Homo sapiens: one gene and its partners. The protein of the gene in region 1 purifies or fractionates together with the protein of each later gene. This does not show direct contact. Each region holds a gene or a part of one and is shown on either strand. Other genes may lie near its edges.

Region 1 (5,332 bases):
GGAAGGTCTTCCTCAACAGATGGATTGCCTCAATAGCTGGGGACTCCTCGGAGTCAGCTGCGGAACCCCGCTCGTCCTAGGGGCAGGGGAGGGACAAAGCAGTGTGTCTATTACATGTAGCTTTGGAAGGCAGGATGACAGCCATCACAGAGCATAGCCCTGGCCTTCTCCTTCCTTCATCATCACAGCCCCTGGATAAGGAAGCACAGAGGACTGACCCTACATGGGTGCTGACTTAAGGGCAAAGACCACGTCCATTCACCTGTGGCCCCAGGGCCAGCACAATGTGGGAGTGAGGGTGCAGTCAGTGTGGACCCTCAGTCCACCTTTGCCCAACCTCCCTTCCTTTTTCTGTTTGTATTGGAGACAGGGTCTTGCTCTGTCACCCAGGCTAGAGTGCACTGGCGCGATTTTGGCTCACTGCAGCCTCGACTTTCTGGGCTCAAGCAATCCTCCCACCTCTCCACCTCCCGAGTAGCTGGGACTACAGGCACATACCCCCACACCCAGCTAACTTTTGTATTTTTTGTAGAGATGGGTTTTGCCATGTTGTCCAGGCTGGTCTCAAAATCCTGGGCTCAAGTGATCCACCCACTTTGGCCTCCCAAAGTGCTGGGATTACGGGCGTGAGCGCAACCTCCCTTCTTAGCCCTTCCTTTGATTCTTCACCTTGGGAACTCTGCTGGGGACGCCAAAGATCAAGACACAGCGTAGGCCCTCTTCCACCAAGGGCCTCAGCATCTCTTCCAGCCGCTTCACACCATACCTGTGTGGGTGTGGGTAGAGGGGTTGAAGGAAGGCAGGTCCCAGGCAACGGTCCTCCGGACCCCACCACACTGTGTGCCTCTGTTAGAAACCAAGCTGCATATGGCACCAGGAGGGCTCAAGCCCCCAGGACAGAAGGGGCAGGGATGCATCCACTAAATAGGAGGGAAGACTGAGGCCCTGAGTAGCAGAGCTCCGGAATTCGGCTGTGGAAGGCTCCTTCGAGGCCCTCTTTTTGAACTCCCATCTGCAGTTCAGCTCCCTTCTGCAACAGCCTCTGCCACGACGTCTCGGGTGATGGGTAGCTCTTTACTTTATGGGGCTGCCCCTTCCACTGTGGAACAGCTCTGGCCCCGGGGAAACCCTTTCCTCTACTGAGCTAATGTCTGTCTGTCCGCATCTTCTACTTCCTAGGTCTGCTTCTGCCTCCCAGCACTTCCACCTGTGGAATCTCTCCCTCCACCACCCGCTGGCCCCCCAACTCCACGTCTCCTACCTGGCCACTCCTGGGAGGCTGGTGATAGGCTGTATGTCATCAGGAACATCCCTGCAAGAGCGGGGGTGGGATATGGATTGGTAGCTGTGGGAAGGGCCAGTGGTGCGGGGGCGACTGAGAGGGATGGTTGGGAAGCAGGAAAGAAATATGGAAGTGGAGATGGTGGGAGGAGGATGGGATCCAGTGTCTGGCTTCCCTGCCTGGCCAAGCCCAGGGCCTGAAATAATAATAGGAACAACAAGAATAACAGTGACAACACTAGCAACTGTACTAAAAGAACGGTAATTACAGGAAGGAATTAAGTGGTTAAGAACTTGGACTCTGAATTTGGCAGGTCCTTGCTTTCTATCCCAGCCACTTACTGCCTGGGTGACCGTGGCCAAGTTCTATCATCTCTTTGAGCCTTAGGCCTTCATCTATATCATGCGTGGTTAATTCATTCATTCAACAAATATTTATTGAGTACTTATTATGTGCCAAGTACTGTTCTAGGCCCTGATGATACAACAGTGAACAAAATAGACAAACATCCCTGCCCTCATGGAGCTGATGTTCTAGAGGATAGCTACTCCTTCTTCATACAAATGCTCTCAGAATTGAATGAGATAATGTGTGTAGGTGCTTAGCATAGTACCTGGTAGATAGTAAGTACTCAGTAAATGTCTGCATTATTATTAACAATCACGATTGCCATCTCTTTTTTTTTTTTTTTTTTTTGAGATGGAGTCTGGCTCCGTCGCCCAGGCTGGAGTGAAGTGGTGCAATCTCGGCTCACTGCAAGCTCCGCCTCCCGGGTTCACGCCATTCTCCTGCCTCAGCCTCCCAAGTAGCTGGGACTACAGGCACCCGCCACCACGCCTGGCTAATTTCTTTGTGTTTTTAGTAGAGACAGGGTTTCACCATATTAGCCAGGATGGTCTCGATCTCCTGACCTCGTGATCCGCCTGCCTCAGCCTCCCAAAGTGCTGGGATTACAGGCGTGAGCCACCGTGCCCAGCCTCAATGACTGCCATCTCTTACAGGTACATAGCACTTTACAATGTACAGAGCACCTTCTCAGCTTCTGTCTTACTGCAAGAGCTCAGGATGGCAGGCAAGGGTTATTCTTCTAATTTTCCAAATGGGATGAATGAGTTCTTTCAAAGTTTGTTTTGTTCCTAAGATTCCTGTCCTTAATCCAAGTAGCCTGCTTCCAGTGCCTTGAATTTCAAGCTGACAGCTCACTTTGCCACCCCCAGCCATACTGATGCCCGCTCCAGTCAACACTCCCTCCCCAACCCCAACCCCAACCAGCAGAGCAGAGGCCTGGCCCATTCTTGGAGACTCACGTGACAAAGATGGGGTAGATGAGGTTGGAGGCATTGAGGGTGGTGGTGGCTGTCTGCCAGGCCCGAAGTAGTGGGTGGAAGTAGCCGCTGTGCAGAACGGACTGGGGCTGCATGGCGTGGGCCAGTGGGCACAGGGGCATCAGTTGGTTGGAACCGAGGGCTCCTGGGGCATTGGCTGCAGGCTCTGTCTGTGGGGGGTGATGGGTGGCACATGAGACATGGTCCCTGTCCTCAGGAGATGGTCACATCTGGAAAACAGCTCTTCTAGATTCCTGCCTCCCCTCTCTCTAGCCCAATGCTACTCACAGCATGGTTCACCAATCCCTGCTGGTCAACAAGGTAAGTTGAGAAATGAAAGTAAGTCTTTAGAAACTTTCATGACAATCAGAATCTAATGATATAAAATTTGGGCTTGTATTTTATGTGACTGCTTCTTGTTCATTATTATCTTTTAAAGTAAACATCTGAGCAAGCAATGACTGTTTAAAAAAAATTCTCTTCTTTTTTTTTTTTTCACACAGGGTCTCTGTCGCCCAGGCTGGAGTGCAGTGGTGCAATCTCGACTCACTGCAGCCTTGACCTCCCGGGCTCAACTGTTTCTCCCAACTCAGCCTCCCAAGTAGCTGGGACTGCAGGTGTGCACCACAACATCCAGCTAATTTTCGAATTTTTTGTAGAGATGGAGGTCTTGCCATGCTTCCCAGGATGGTCTCGAACTCCTGGGCTCAAGCAATCTGCCTGCCTCAGCCTCCCAAAGTGCCGGGATTACAGGCGTGAGCCACGGTGCCTAGCCAAAAAAGTAATTTTCTAGCTGGGCATGGTGGCTCACGCCTGTAATCCCGGCACTTTGGGAGGCTGAGGTGGCAGGATGGCTTGAGCCCAAGAGTTCGAGACCAGCCTGGGCAACATGGCGAGACCCTGTATCTACAAAAAGTTTAAAAATCAGCCAGGTGTGGTGGTCCACACCTGTAGTCCCAGCTACTCAGGAGGCTAAAGCAAGAGGATCGCTTGAGCCCAGGAGTTCAAGGTTGCAGTAAGCTATGATTGCACCACTGCACTCCAGCCTGGGTGAGAGAGGGAGACGTCTCTAAAAAAAAATAATAATTTTATTGCATTGCATTTTATCAAAGAATCAATAAATTGGAAATAGAAAAAAAAGAACTAATCCTTCCTTATGCATAAAGAAGCACTGATCTAGCCAACATTTAAACTTTGTTTATTCCACAAAAAATGCCCGTGTTCATGGCAGAACTTTTAGAAAAGTGCAGATAAGCAAAAAGAGAAAAATCCCCTGCAATTCTACCTCTAGAGAAAAGTACTGTTGGCCGGGCATGGCGGCTCACACCTATAATCTCAGCACTTTGGGAGGCTGAGATGGGCAGATCACTTGAGGTCAGGAGTTCGAGACCAGCCTGGCCAACACAGTTAAACCCCACCTCTACTAAAAATACAAAAAAAATTAGCTGGGCGTGGTGGTGCGTGCCTGTAATCCCAGCTACTGGGGAGGCTGAGGCAGGAGAACTGCTTGAATCCAGGAGGAGGAGGTTGCAGTAAGCCGAGATAGCGCCACTTCACTCCAGCCTGGGCGACAGAGCAAGACTTCATTCCAAAAAAAAAAAGAAAGAAAGAAAAGAGAAAAGTACTTGGGACATGGATTTTTTGTTAGGTACAATGCACACCAATAGGAGAAAATAGTACCATTCATGTTAGATAGACAGACAGACACATACACTGTATAGAGTGCCACCAAATCTTTTCTAGCCCAAGGAGTTTCCTGGGCTCCACGAGCACAAGCTACACCTTCTTGCTTTCCTAACCTTGTCCCTTTACCTGAAAGGCTGTGCTCTCCCCACAGCCTCCCCGCACCCAAATCTACAGGGTTCTCCTTCCCTCTCCCACTGAGGCTGTCTTGTCCAGATTGCAGTCTCTCTTATGTAAGTTATCTGTGGACCTGTCTTACCTCATGCCAGTAGACAGAGCTTCTGCAGGGCAAGGTCCAGAGTTGGTTCATTTTTGCCTCCCCTACAGTGCTCTGTCACACACTGACCTTGGCACACAGTAAATATTTAATTACGTGAAGTACAAAAATATGCTCCAAATGCCAAATTAGTGGACACAAGACAGAAGGAAGCTGGGGCATTAACATTTGTTTCTTGAGCACCTACTGTGTGCCAGACCATGCCTGGCATTTTCACAGGTGATTTCTCATCAAGTGGGCACTACAGTCCTGGCAGGCAGGGCTGATTGAGTGCATGGAGCCTGACCAGAAGTGAGCCATGGCTCCAATGGGAGTGAGGAGGTCAGAAGAGGCATATTAGAAGAAGACAGGCGCCAGGCGTAGTGGCTCACACCTGTAACCCCAGCACTTTGGGAGGCTGAGGCGGGTGGATCACTTGAGGTCTGGAGTTTGAGACCAGGCTGGCCAATGTGGTGAAACTCCGTCTCTACTAAAAATACAAAAATTAGGCCAGGCACGGTGGCTCACGCCTGTAATCCCAGCACTTTGGGAGGCCGAGGTGGGTGGATCACTTGAGGTCAGGAGTTTGAGACCAGCCTGACCAACATGGTGAAACCCCATCTCTACTAAAAATAAAAAAAAATTAGCCGGGTGTGGTGGCACATGCCTGTAATCCCAGCTACTTCAGAAGCTGAGATAGGAGAATCCTTTGAACTTGGGAGGCGGAGGTTGCAATGAGCCGAGATCGTGCCATTGCACTCCAGCATGGGCAACAAGAGAGAAACT
Region 2 (4,416 bases), on another chromosome or scaffold:
TTTTGTATTTTTAGTAGAGAGGGGTTTCACTATGTTGGCCAGACTGGTCTTGAAAAAGGCGGGTGGGTATTATAAGAAGACAGCCAGCTGGACCTGGGGGTAGGGCATGGCTCCCTGCGGAGGCCCTGTCTGTCTACGTGTCACACAGTCAGACATGCCACCCCAGCCTCGTGATCCGCCCACCTCGGCCTCCCAAAGTGCTGGGATTACAGGCGTAAGCCACGGCGCCCAGCCTTAATTTTTCATATTTTAGTAGAGATGGCGTTTCACCATGTTGCTCAGGCTGGTCACAAACTTCTGAGCTCAGGCAATCCACCCTCCTCAGCCTCCCAAAGTGCTAGAATTACAGGCGTGAGCCCCCGCGCCCACACAACTTAGAAAACTTTTTTTTTTTTTGAGACAGAGTCTTGCTCTGTCCCCCAGGCTGGAGTGCAGTAGCGCGATCTCTGCTCACTGCAAGCTCCGCCTCCTGGGTTCACACCATTCTCCTGCCTCAGCCTCCCGATTAGCTGGGACTACAGGCGCCTCCACAATTTTTTTTGTATTTTTAGTAGAGACGGGGTTTCACCATGTTAGCCAGGGTGGTCTCCATCTCCTGACCTCATGATCTGCCCGCCTCGGCCTCCCAAAGTGCTGGGATTACAGGCGTGAGCCACTGCGCTCGGCCAGAAAACTTTCTTAACCCATGGCCCCTTCAATTAAAAAAAAAAAAATCTCCCATCCTCACTTTACTTCTGAAAACTTAAAATAAATTAAAAGTGTATATAATTGGCTGGGCACAGTGGCTCACTCCTGTAATCCCAGCACTTTGGGAGGCCCAGGCAGGCAGATCACTTGAGGCCAAGAGTGACCAGCCTGGGCAACATGGCGAAAGCCCTCTCTACTAAAAATACAAAAATTAGCCAGATATGGTGGTGCATGCCTGTGATCCCAGCTGCTACTTCGGAGGCTGAGGCAGGAGAATCGCTTAAACCCGGGAGGTGGAGGTTGCAGTGAGCTGATTGCACCACTGCACTCCAGCCTGGGTGACAGAGCCGAGACTCCATCTCCAAAAATACATATGTATAAGTAAAAATAAATACATTAATTAAAAGTGTATAACTAAAAACAAACAAAAGCCATGGCACTTTTAGAATAGGCTTTTTTTTTTTTTTTTTTTTTTGAGAGGGAGTCTCACTCTGTCGCCAGGCTGGAGTCCAGTGGCACGATTTCGGCTCATTGCAACCTCCGCCTCCCGGGTTCACGCCATTCTCCTGCCTCAGCCTCCTGAGTAACTGGGACTACAGGCGCCCGCCACCACACCTGGCTAATGTTTTGTATTTTTAGTAAAGACGGGGTTTCACTGTGTTAGCCAGGATTGTAGAATAGGCCTTTTCAAAATGTGAAACCAGCTCCCACCCCACCTCTGCTCTCCCGTCTTTTCTTGGAGAGCCAATAGTATAATGGCAAATTTTAGAACTCAGCTGACTACATATTAGCTGTGTGACCTTGGGCAAGGCACTGAGTCTCTCAAGTCTCCATTGCTCTCATTAAGAAAAATGAGAACAAGAATGCCCACCTCACAGGGGAGACAAAGAAGATACGGAATGTAAAATGCCAAGCATTTAATCCCATATAGTAATGCTCCTCTGCCCCTCCGTGCTGTACGTACCACTCCCCACTTGCTGTCAGCAAATAGTAGCAGCCATCAGGCCCGGGCATCCCACCCAACCCCGTCCCAGGGCAATAGCAGCCCTTGTCCTCCTCAGGGACTTGCCTTTCACAACAGTCCGTTCTCTTAAGGTGGGCGTCACGGCCGACCTAGGAGGGGGACTTGAAAAGGAGGTGAGAAGTGTGTGTGCGTATCCACACCTGGCTATAGGGAGGGGGGATTGTGTGCGTGTGTGCAGGCACACCTGTGCATCTGTGCCACCATGGGCAGTGTGTGTGTGTCTGAGGTCACTGTATCCCATCTGTCCCTCCCCCCCCAGCTATGATCGCAACACCTTGGTGGCCATCGTGGTGGGTGTGGGGCGCCTCATCACTGGCATGGACCGAGGCCTCATGGGCATGTGTGTCAACGAGCGGCGACGCCTCATTGTGCCTCCCCACCTGGGCTATGGGAGCATCGGCCTGGGTGAGAAGGGCTGGGGCACAGGCCGGGGGTGGAGGAGACCACGAGGCAGAATCAGGGATCCTGGGGTGAGAAAACTGAAGTGCGGAGATGAGGAGTGACTTGCCCAATGTCACACTGTGCACGCAGTATGAAGAGTGGCAGCTCTGGCTGGGGCAGTAGCTGACATATATGGTCCCAGAGTTTTGGGAGGCCGAGGTGGGAGGATTGCTTGAACCCAGGAGTTCCAGACCAGCCTAGGCAACATAGTGAGACCTCGTCTCTACAAAAAATAAAATAAATTATCCAGGTGTGGTGGTGTGTGCCTGTAGTCCCAACTACTCAGAAGGCTCAGGTGGGAGGATTGCTTGACCCCGGGAGGCTGCAGTGAGCCATGATCATGCCACTGAATTCCACCCTGTGTGACAGAGCAAAACCCCTCTTTTTTTCTTTTTCTTTTTTTTTTTGAGACAGCATCTCACTCTGTTGCACAGGCTGGAGTTTAGTGGTGCGATCTCGGCTCACTGCAACCTCAGCCTCCTGGGCTCAAGCAGTCCTCCCTCTCAGCCTCCCAAATAGCTGGGACTACAGGTGCACACCACCACACGTGGCTAATTTTTTGTATTTTTAGTAGAGATGGGGTTTCGCCATGTTGCGCAGGCTGGTCTTGAACTCCTGGGCTCAAGCCATCCACCTGCCTTGGCCTCCCACAGTGCTGGGATAACAGGCATGAGCCACTGTGTCTGGCCCCCTATCTCTTAAAAAAAAAAAACAAAAATAGTGGCATCTCTGTCCCTGGTTTGGGTCTCTTGGTGCTGGGATGAGAGGAAGGGGAATAACAGGGCCCTGGCTGGGATCGTGGTTGGCAGAGCAGAACTCTGAGACCTCCACGCTGCTGCGCTCTCACAGCGGGGCTCATTCCACCGGATGCCACCCTCTACTTCGATGTGGTTCTGCTGGATGTGTGGAACAAGGAAGACACCGTGCAGGTGAGCACATTGCTGCGCCCGCCCCACTGCCCCCGCATGGTCCAGGACGGCGACTTTGTCCGCTACCACTACAATGGCACCCTGCTGGACGGCACCTCCTTCGACACCAGGTGAGGGGCTGGAGGGGAGCCCTGAGGCACTGGGGACTGTGGCATGGGGAGCGGGAATCCGGGGCCCAGCCTGCCTCTCCCACCTCCACCTCATTTTCTGCAGCTACAGTAAGGGCGGCACTTATGACACCTACGTCGGCTCTGGTTGGCTGATCAAGGGCATGGACCAGGGGCTGCTGGGCATGTGTCCTGGAGAGAGAAGGAAGATTATCATCCCTCCATTCCTGGCCTATGGCGAGAAAGGCTATGGTGAGGGTGGGCAAGGACACAAGGGGAAATTCCGCAGAAGAGGGAAAAACCAGGCCTCCACATACAGTTGCTCAGGTTGTATACTGCACGAGGGCATCCAACCAAGGACTCAAGGTGGGATGAAATCTACCCTTGGTGCTACTAAGAAGGGGTGCTTTGGCCGGGCGTGGTGGCTCACGCTTGTAATCCCAGCACTTTGGGAAGCCAAGGCGGGAGGATCACGAGGTCAGGAGATCGAGACCACGGTGAAACCCCGTCTCTACTAAAAATACAAAAAAATTAGCCGGGCGTGGTGGGGGCGCCTGTAGTCCCAGCTACTCGGAGAGGCTGAGGCAGGAAAATGACGTGAACCCGGGAGGCGGAGCTTGCAGTGAGCCGAGATCGCGCCACTGCACTCCAGCCTGGGTGACAGAGCGAGACTCTGTCTCAAAAAAAAAAAAAAAAAAAGAAGGGGTGCTTTATTCTGATTCACACGAAGGCTCAGTATGAGCCGGTGGTGGCCCTGGGGAAAACCCAGCTCAGGTCTTACTGGAGGAGCAAGAAGCAGGGCTGCTGATGGGCGGGAAAGGGCTCTGGAGAGTGGGGCTAGTGTCTTGCATGGTGCCCACTGGGCCTTCCTGAGTCAAGAAGGAGCCTCGGCTTGCTCCCCAATTTTATGGTTCAAGCCCTATCCCTTCCCCAGGGACAGTGATCCCCCCACAGGCCTCGCTGGTCTTTCACGTCCTCCTGATTGACGTGCACAACCCGAAGGACGCTGTCCAGCTAGAGACGCTGGAGCTCCCCCCCGGCTGTGTCCGCAGAGCCGGGGCCGGGGACTTCATGCGCTACCACTACAATGGCTCCTTGATGGACGGCACCCTCTTCGATTCCAGGTCAGGAGGGTCTTGAGGTGGGAGGGCGGGGGCTGGGTGAAACGTGGACGAAGCTGGGGGTCACTCTGAGCTGCCTGGAAGGGGAGGGCCCCTTTGACTCCCTT
Region 3 (4,416 bases), on another chromosome or scaffold:
CACTGTGTAAAATGTACCGGTGAACATCTAGCATGGCGGGACCGTCATTTTTCTCTTGCAAACACATTCTCTTATAAACAGGAAAACCCAACACTGATGAATTAAAGGTTATCCAAGTATAAAAGCCATCTAAAACAGACACAGCATTAAATGCAGTTTCTCCCTAATGACAGGGACTGCCTGCTTAAATTTAGTATCTCTTCACACCTTTACCAAAAGTTTAACTAGGACTTTCTTTGTAGCCAGGAGCCACCTAGGAAGTGTGCCCCCTTCCTTCCAACTTACGTGGGGTATCCTCGCACCCCCTGGGCGGAGCACACGTCGGAGTGGGCCGTGCAGTCCACTTTAGCCACATAGACTTTGGCATCTTCCATGCTGTTGTATTTGTCTCCCAGGTCATTCCAAGTCGGCTGCAGCCGCTGGCAGTGTCCACACCTGGAACAAGGCAAGAGTACAAGCACATTGAGTATCAGGTCACAGGGCAGCTGGCCCACAACTTCAGCTCTGTCCAGGGGACAATGGGGCTCTCAGTCCTTTCTTTACACCATTGCAGATGGCAGCTCCTGGACCAGTACTCCAGGACCTCTCTCCCCTGCTCCCATCCCTCCAGAGTCACTGCCCTGTTCTCAGCATGAAATCTTGGCCTTGTTCCAGTATTAAACTTAGCAAAGTGTTGTTCTGGATCCTAGTTGTTCTGGCCCTGCTGACCTCCCGCTTGACTTCTATCCCAGAGTCCACCCTCCTTCCCTTGTGGCCTACTCCTGAGCCCTACTGCAGCATCTGCAGTGTTCCCAAAGGACTATAGCTTGGCTTGGCCCTGGGACACATTCTCTCTGACACTTCGTCCCTAAACTCCACCTAGCTAAATCTATCTGCCCTTCAGGTTTAGTTTGGGTGTCACTTCCTCTAGCAAGTTGGCCCTGACTCCCCGGGCTGTTCAGCACCCATTCTCTTCTCCTGCCCTTCTGGAAAGCCTCTCTACTCCTCCCTTGGACAGTAGCTTAGCACTTCCTGCTGTATCTGCTACTTTTATTCGTCAAGTCTCCTCCACTATATAACCAAATGGCTACAAACATAAGGCAATCTCAAAATTTAATCACCTGCAATTTTCTCCAATGAGAAGGGGAAAAAAAAAGTTTGTGGCCACCTATACTTCTAGGGTTGAAGTAAGCAAATGTCTATTCTTAGTATTCATTGTATGAATTCAGTTATGTATAAATATTTTAAAATCACCCATCATTTAAAATAGTATCTTAACTAGGCTTCTTGCCATGCTTCACATTTCATGAGGATATCAGCATCTTTCCCAACACTAGACCTTAAGTCATACAGCTGACCACAGCTCTTGCTGTGTTCTCTGGACAGTATGTCTACAGTGCCATACTCGAATTTTGAATGAGACAACCCTAGAAACTTTATCCCAGGTTTCAACTACAATCCCATAGCATTATGACACATGGGTTTGTTTGCTATTTAATATGGCAGGAACACACTGATGCCTACAATGTAACCACTTTGCTGTATCGCTTTTTAAAATGCTTTTTTTTTAAACACACTTGCTTATATGAACACTCAACGCTTAGAATTGTGACTTCTTCCTCAAAATAATTTAATAATCTGTTAAATCTCCTTTTATTTTCTGACAGATTACCTCAAAAATAAGCATTTAAGTCGGTAGCAGTGGCTCATGCCTGTAATCCCAGCACTTTGGGAGGCCAAGGCAGGAGAGCTGCTTGAGCCCAGGGGTTCAAGACTGGCCTGGGCAACACAGTGAGACCCCCATCTACAAAAAATTTTAAAAAATTAGCCTGGTGTGGTGGCACACACCTGCAGTCCTAGCTACCTGGGAGGCTGAGGCAGAGGGATCACTTGAGGCCAGAAGTTTGAGGCTGCAGCGAGCTATGATCACACCACTGCACTCCAGCCTGGGTGACAGAGATTTTGTCTCTTAAGAAAAAAAGGATTTAAGCCGGGTGTGGTGGCTCACACCTATAATCCCAGCACTTTGGGAAGCCGAAGCAAGCGGATCACAAGGTCAGGAGTTCGAGACCAGCCTGACCAACAAGGTGAAGCCCCATCTCTACTAAAAATACAAAAATTAGCTGGGCATGGTGGCACACGCCTGTAATCTCAGCTACTCAGGAGGCTGAGGCAGGAGAATCGCTTGAACCCGGGAGGCGGAGGTTGCAGTGAGCCGAGACCATGCTATTGCACTCCAGCCTGGGCGATAGAGCAAGACTCCATCTCAAAAAAAAAAAAAAAAAAAAAAGAAAAACAGACTTAAAGGTAGCACTGAAAAAGTCTGCTTCAAGTTAATGTGTCTTCCCTAAACAGCACTTTCTTGGCCAGCTAAGAGAATCCCTGCTTTATGAGATACTCAGATACAAAAAAAAAAGCACAATGAAACTATACATGCAGATTTAACTTCTGTAGATTCAACAAAGTGAGTTTATGTGGCGGGGGAGAAGGAAACAAGAAAAAAAAAAAGGCAATTCCCACAGAACCCTGAAGTGTGTGCAAGCTGGGAGATGTGAGGTTTTTGTTCCTCAGCAGGCCTTGGTTCCTACATGCTTCTCATGGCATGAGCATCTCTCCGACTACATTAAGTGTGACCCTGCTGTCTAAAGGCACAGGTTTGAGAACTAGTCCATTTGGTGTTTAACCAAAGAAGCCATGATAGTTCTAATGCTGGAGGAAACGCTGGCAGTGGGGACTGACTGACTGACTGGGGCGGTGTCCAACAAGGCACCTTCCTAAGGGACTGTCAAGGGCAGTTCTGACCTTCAGGGGACTTTGATCAGATATGCTCATTCTGGAACTTTAGAACTCCTCTGCAATCTTGACAAGGTTTTGTTTTGCTACTGCTTTTTTTTTCCCTTTTTTTTTTTTGAGAAAACACAAGATTAGATTAAGAATGAGAATAAACAATAAATAAGTTTGTGGTGCGCTAAATCAAAACTGACCATTCTGGGCCATCACCAAGTTGGGCGTGCCCTTGCTCCTGGCTGTGATGGGGCCACAGGTGCTATCTAGTCGGCCCTGCGGCTACAGCACCCAACTCTGAGACAGGCAGCTGCACTCAGAAGGTAGCCTGTGGCCAAGAAGTAGAGCAAAGCTACCTGGTCCAAATCTTGACCTCACTGTCACCAGGTTCAGGGTGACTCACAAACTGGCCATACAGAAGTTGTGACCTGATGTTGGCAAAAAATCTACAGCAGCAGGATAACCCTGCAGAAGCCAAGTGCAGGGCAAAAATACACAGATTGATGTTTTTGTTACAGGGGCCCCAGCCCCTTAATCACACGTGGGCTTTCACCACTCCACGGCAGCTGAAACTGGAAAAAGGTATGTGTGTGTTGAGGGGGAGTCCACTGAGTCTTCTATCTGAGCTCCAAACGCTCAGCTCACCACTCCAGGACCTCCTTCCCTCTCCTGCATAGACCCCTCCAGAGTCACCACCTTGCTCTCAGCCTTACAACTTACCAAAGTGTTGTGCCAGGTATTGTTGGTCCTACTTGATCTTGCCCCTGCTGACCTCCCATTTGACTCGCCGCCCACTCAGCCTCCTTTCCTGGCAGCCTATTCGTGAGCCCTACTGCAGTATCTGCAGTTTTCTGAAAGGGCCCTCTTAAAAGTCCAACTTAAACACCATCATAGAAACCCACATATCTCTGTTTAAGTATTTGTAGTAGACTATCAAGAAGTCAACAAATATGCCAGGTGCGGTGGCTTACGCCTGTAATCCCAGCACTTTGGGAGGAAGAGGCGGGCAGAACACGAGGTCAAGAGATCGAGACAATCCTGGCCAACATGGTGAAACCCCATCTCTACTAAAAATACAAAAATTAGCTGGGCGTGGTGGCACGCACCTGTAGTCCCAGCTTCTCAGGAGGCTGAGGCAGGAGAATCGCTTAAACCCAGGAGGTGGAGGTTGCAGTAAATCAAGATTGCGCTACTGCACTCCAGCCTGGCAACAGAGCAAGACTCCATCTCAAAAAAAAAAAAAAAAAAAAAAAGTAACAACATAAAGCTAATTATTCTGGAAGCATCCAGCTAAATGTCTACAAGCCACATATAATGGAAAAGGAATTTACTTAATACCAAGTGCCCAGATGTGCCAGTTTTCTCTCACTCAGCCCAGGACTAGCTGGTATTTATTGCAAAGATTCTAAACTTAAAATTCCTTTGGCACTGTGGGGACTTATTACATCTGCATGTCAGTTTTTCTTTAAAAAAAAAAAAAAAGTAAAGAATGGGATGCGATGGCTCATGCCTGTAATCTCAGTACTTTGGGAGGCCAGGGCAGAAGTACTGATTGAGGCCAGGAGTTTGAGACCAGCCCCGGCAACATAGCGAGACCCTGTTTCTACCAACTACAACAAAAACAACAACAACAAAATAAGCTGGGTGTGATGA
Region 4 (4,416 bases), on another chromosome or scaffold:
ACATTCCTTAGATAAGCTTAATTAGAGCTCAGCTTCTCATCTTGGAGAAACAAGTTCTCTGAAGATTGAAGAACTGAATGAAGATACTGAGAGAAAAAAAAAGGAAAATCTGCTGATTAGAAGATTGTATAATTGTTAGTAATTTATCGTTTTTATTTTTTATTACTTTTCATTTTATTTTTTTTTAGAGACAGAGTCTCACTCTGTTGCCCAGGCTAGAGTGCAGTGGCACAATCTCGGCTCACTGCAACTTCCACCTCCCGGGCTCAAGTGATTCTTGTGCCTCAGCCTCCCAAGTAGCTGGGATTACAGGCATGCACCACCACGCCCGGCTAATTTTTGTATTTTTAGTAGAGAGGGGATTTCGCCATGTTGGCCAGGCTGGTCTTAAACTCCTGGCCTTAAGTGATCTGCCCCACTTGGCTTCCCAAAGTACTGGGATTATAGGAGTGAGCTACTGTGCCTGGACAACTTACCTTTTTAAAAAGATGCTTTGGTCTTCTTGGTTTAGGTTAACTGCTTATCCTGGAAAAGAAAGTTCTTTAGAAAGGCCTTTCTTTATGATAGTATTGTGAAGAGAAGAGCATATATTGGCGAATATTTGTGTGGTCCTCAAATGGCTTATTTTCCCGTATCTTTCTTTTCTACTTTATTGGTATATAAGCAGGCTTCATCTAAGTCTCATGGTAGTAATAATATAGATTCTCTTTCTCCTTAGAATCATAAAGCTGAGAGAAAGCATAGACATGGTCTCATTTCACCACTTCATGTAGTTGAGGAACCCAATATTCAGAGAGTTCTGTATTCTATAAGGGAATGTATTAATAAATGAGGGAACTGAGACTCAGATATTCCTAAGGTACCCTAGAAGCTTAGCGGTAGGGCCGTTAAGGACTAGGACTTGGGTCTCTTGACTGTGAGACCCATTGTGTATTTTGGAGTCATAATTGTCATCTGGGGATACTTATTTTGAGTTGTGTATCTTACTCATTTGCATATAATCTAGGATTCAGTCTTTTTCTTCAGTCGTAATTTATGAAGTCTCACACCAATTTCAAAGCATTCTTTATGTCTCCTTATGCTTACTTGCTTTTTTCTTAACTTCCATTCTTCCACTCTATCTATGTTACTCACAAGTTAGTCCTGTTCTCTTGATAGTCTCTTGTGTGGCTTACTCTTAACTATTTTTCATGATCTCTTGCCTTCAATTTCACTAAACATTATTTAGGCATGTTTGCATATTCAGGGTGCATATTCTGAGTTGGTGATTTTTCATGAGTTTCCATAATTCAGTTTTTCAGATTAGATTTAGTAATTCCAAAGTATTGTTGGATAATTTAATAATAGCAATTTTTAAAGTAAGTACTGTGTGCCAGACATTGTAATGGTAACTTTATGTTATTTAATGTGTCCACAGACCTGCATGGTGAATATTTTCCTGCATTGTGGGTAAAGACATTCAGACCCAGAGATTAAAAGTAACCCAACTAGTAGGTAGCAGAGCTAGGATTCAATCTAAGTTTAGTCTCTAGAATCCATTCACTTTTCAGTACACTAATATTTTCTCTTGGGTAAGGCCTGAAATCCTGGTGTCACTCTTCCTTTTAATAGATGCCAATGGATGTTGCCAAAAACAGTGGTTTTGAACTTCTTTATTAAAGCTTTTAGAGCTACTCTGACTAAAGTAGATTTGAGATCCCTATTTGCTTTGCACCCCTGGTGTGCTTGAGAGAAGTATCTTTTGAAAGTCACTGCTTTCGTATATACTATTACTATTAGAGGAACTATAAAATATTAAAGCCATTCATTATTCAACGTGTTTTTGGTTTATCAGTAGTTGTACTTTTTGGCCAGGTGTGGTGGCTCATGCCTGTAATCTCAGCACTTTGGGAGGCCGAGGCGGGTGGATCACCTGAGGTCGGGAGTTCAAGACCAGCCTGACCAACATAGAAAAACACCGTCTCTCCTAAAAATACAAAATTAGCTGGCGTGGTGGCACATGCCTGTAATCCCAGCTACTCAGGAGGCTGAGGCAGGAGAATCACTTGAACCTGGGAGGCGGAGGTTGTGGTGAGCCGAGATCGCGCCATTGCACTCCAGCCAGGGCAACAAGAGCGAAACTCCATCTCAAAAAAAAAAAAGTTCTACTTTTCTATTATTATCTCTTAAATTCCTTTTTTTTTCTTTTGCAAGAGATAGAGTCTTGCTGTGTTGCCCAGGCTGAAGTACAGTGGCTTTTCACAGGCATAATCTTGGTGCATTACAACCTCAAACTCGTGGGCTCAAGCAGTCTTCCCACTTCATCCTCTTGAGTAGGTAGGACTGAGGATACATGCTAGCATGCCCAGCTCTGTAGTGATTTAACTGACATGTATATAGTAGTCCCTTTTTATATTCTATGAGGTAAACTAGGGCAGGAGTTAATATTTTCTTTTAATAAATGAGAAAACTGAAATGTTCATTGACTTGCCTAAGATCACAGAATCATTATGTGGCAGGAACAACATTCAAACCCAGGACTTCGTATTTTTAGTCCATTGTTCTTTCTATAGCTTGCATTGAAGGGTTTGATATTTGAAGTGACAAAGATCTAAGTTTGAAGCCCAACTTAGGTATTTACATTGGTCGAGTCATTTAACTTCTCATAGTCTATTTTCTTATCTCTAAAATGAGAATACTTCTGCTTACCTGAGAGTGCTGTGAGAATAAGATAATACATAAAAAGCACTTATAGTTCCTGACACTGACACATAAGCTCTTAAAGAATGATAGCTAGTAGATAATTATACATTGAGAACTGTGAAGAAGGTTCATAGTTTATGTGGAAGCTCTCCTTTCAGTTTCTTATGTTATCAGCTTTTTTGTCCCCACAAGCTGTATGTTTATTCATATCTGATTAGATAGTCTTTCATCCATCTTCTTAAATTTATTATGGATATCAGGCCTCTTAGGAAGGCTTTAATGAGCTATTCACACAGATGGGGAAATAAAGGGCAAAGTGAAGTGATTTGCTCAAGGTCACAAATTGAGTTACTAAAATAATCAAATCCCAGTATTTCTGTTTTTTTTTTTATTTTTTCATTAGATTTTTAAAAAGTTAAATTTATATGCCATAGAATTCACTCTTTTAAATGTACAATTCAGTGATTTTTGGTATATTCACTCAGTTGTACAATTACCACCACTAATTGCAGAACATTTTCATCCTCCCATAAACTCGTTACTCATTAGCATCTTCCCTTCCTCCCAGCATGTATTGCTTCTGGATCTTGAGTCACAGAAAGGCTTTTCCTTTTTTTGGGTTATAAAGGAATCATTTATATTTTTTCCTGGTACCTGTGTAGTGTCCTTTTTTTTTTTTTTTTTTTTTTTGAGACAGAGTCTTGCTCTGTCACCGAGGCCGGATGGAGTGCAGTGGTGTGATCTTGGCCCACTACAACCTCCACTTCCCGGGTTCAGGCGATTCTCCTGCTTCAGCCTCCCAAGTAGCTGGGATTACAGGCATGCACCACCACACCCAGCTAATTTTTGTATTTTTAGTAGAGACGGGGTTTCATTATGTTGGCCAGGCTGCTCTTGAACTCCTGGCCCCAGGTAATCCACCCACCTCAGCCTTCCAAAGTGCTGGGATTACAGGCATGAGCCAATTTTTTTTTAATCCATTTGAAGTTTATCTTGATATGCAAAGTGAGGAAAAGAAGACATTTTATTTTTATCCAAAGGCTATCTAGTTGTTTTCATCATTTATTAAATTTTTTAGTCCTTTACCCATTACGTAAATTTCACTACAATAAAGAAATAGTCCTGGCCAGGCTCAGTGGTCCATGCCTGTAATCCCAGCACTTTGGGAGGCCAAGGCATGTGGACCACTTGAGCTTGGGAGTTGGAGACCAGCCTGGACAACATGGTGAAACCTCTTCTCTACAAAAATCACAAAAATTTAGCTGGGTGTGGTGGTGTGTGCCTGTAGTCCCAGCTACTCTGGAGGATCATTTGAGTCCGGGAAGCAAAGGTTGCAGTGAGCCAAGATAATGCCCCTGCACTCTAGCCTGGGACACAGAGTGAGACTTTGTCTCAAAAAAAAAAAAAAAAGTCTTCTTTCTCACTGATTAAAATGACACCTTTGTCATATGCCAAATTTCTATATAAATCCGGGTCTGTGGAGTTTCTTTTACGTGCCACTACTGTACTTTTAATTAGAGGATTTATTAATATGTTTTGATGGGTGGTAGAGGTTGTTTACCCCTCATTCATTTTGAGGATTTTCGTGGTTCCTCTTGTTTTTTTCTCACAAATAAACTTTCTAATCCCATAGACTAGTGCCAGAAAAAAATCCTGATAGTATTTTTATTGGGATTACATTAAATACAAACATTAATTTAGAATAAACGTTTTTATGATGTTGAATGTTCCTTG

Evidence for each region. The genes of interacting proteins can lie anywhere in the genome.
Region 2: the proteins of ALAD (region 1) and FKBP10 fractionate together in Homo sapiens (co-fractionation; one large-scale study listed by BioGRID). This does not show direct contact.
Region 3: the proteins of ALAD (region 1) and TXNDC5 fractionate together in Homo sapiens (co-fractionation; one large-scale study listed by BioGRID). This does not show direct contact.
Region 4: the proteins of ALAD (region 1) and PPME1 fractionate together in Homo sapiens (co-fractionation; one large-scale study listed by BioGRID). This does not show direct contact.

The regions. Positions count from the first base shown.
Region 1 is NC_000009.12:113,390,858-113,396,189, forward strand, and holds part of ALAD (delta-aminolevulinic acid dehydratase), read right to left. Parts: exon of another isoform or gene 4,601-5,332; coding exon of another isoform or gene 4,550-4,600; intron 2,781-4,549; exon of another isoform or gene 2,778-2,780; coding exon of another isoform or gene 2,703-2,777; coding exon 2,590-2,702; intron 1,479-2,589; coding exon of another isoform or gene 1,313-1,478; coding exon 1,262-1,312; intron 767-1,261; coding exon 670-766; intron 77-669; coding exon 1-76.
Region 2 is NC_000017.11:41,815,088-41,819,503, forward strand, and holds part of FKBP10 (peptidyl-prolyl cis-trans isomerase FKBP10 precursor), read left to right. Parts: intron 1-1,970; coding exon 1,971-2,116; intron 2,117-3,001; coding exon 3,002-3,191; intron 3,192-3,294; coding exon 3,295-3,440; intron 3,441-4,122; coding exon 4,123-4,312; intron 4,313-4,416. UniProt on the Homo sapiens protein: PPIases accelerate the folding of proteins during protein synthesis.
Region 3 is NC_000006.12:7,904,289-7,908,704, forward strand, and holds part of TXNDC5 (thioredoxin domain-containing protein 5 isoform 1 precursor), read right to left. Parts: intron 436-4,416; coding exon 286-435; intron 1-285. UniProt on the Homo sapiens protein: Protein disulfide isomerase of the endoplasmic reticulum lumen involved in the formation of disulfide bonds in proteins. Can reduce insulin disulfide bonds.
Region 4 is NC_000011.10:74,173,373-74,177,788, forward strand, and holds part of PPME1 (protein phosphatase methylesterase 1), read left to right. Parts: intron 1-4,416. UniProt on the Homo sapiens protein: Demethylates proteins that have been reversibly carboxymethylated. Demethylates PPP2CB (in vitro) and PPP2CA. Binding to PPP2CA displaces the manganese ion and inactivates the enzyme.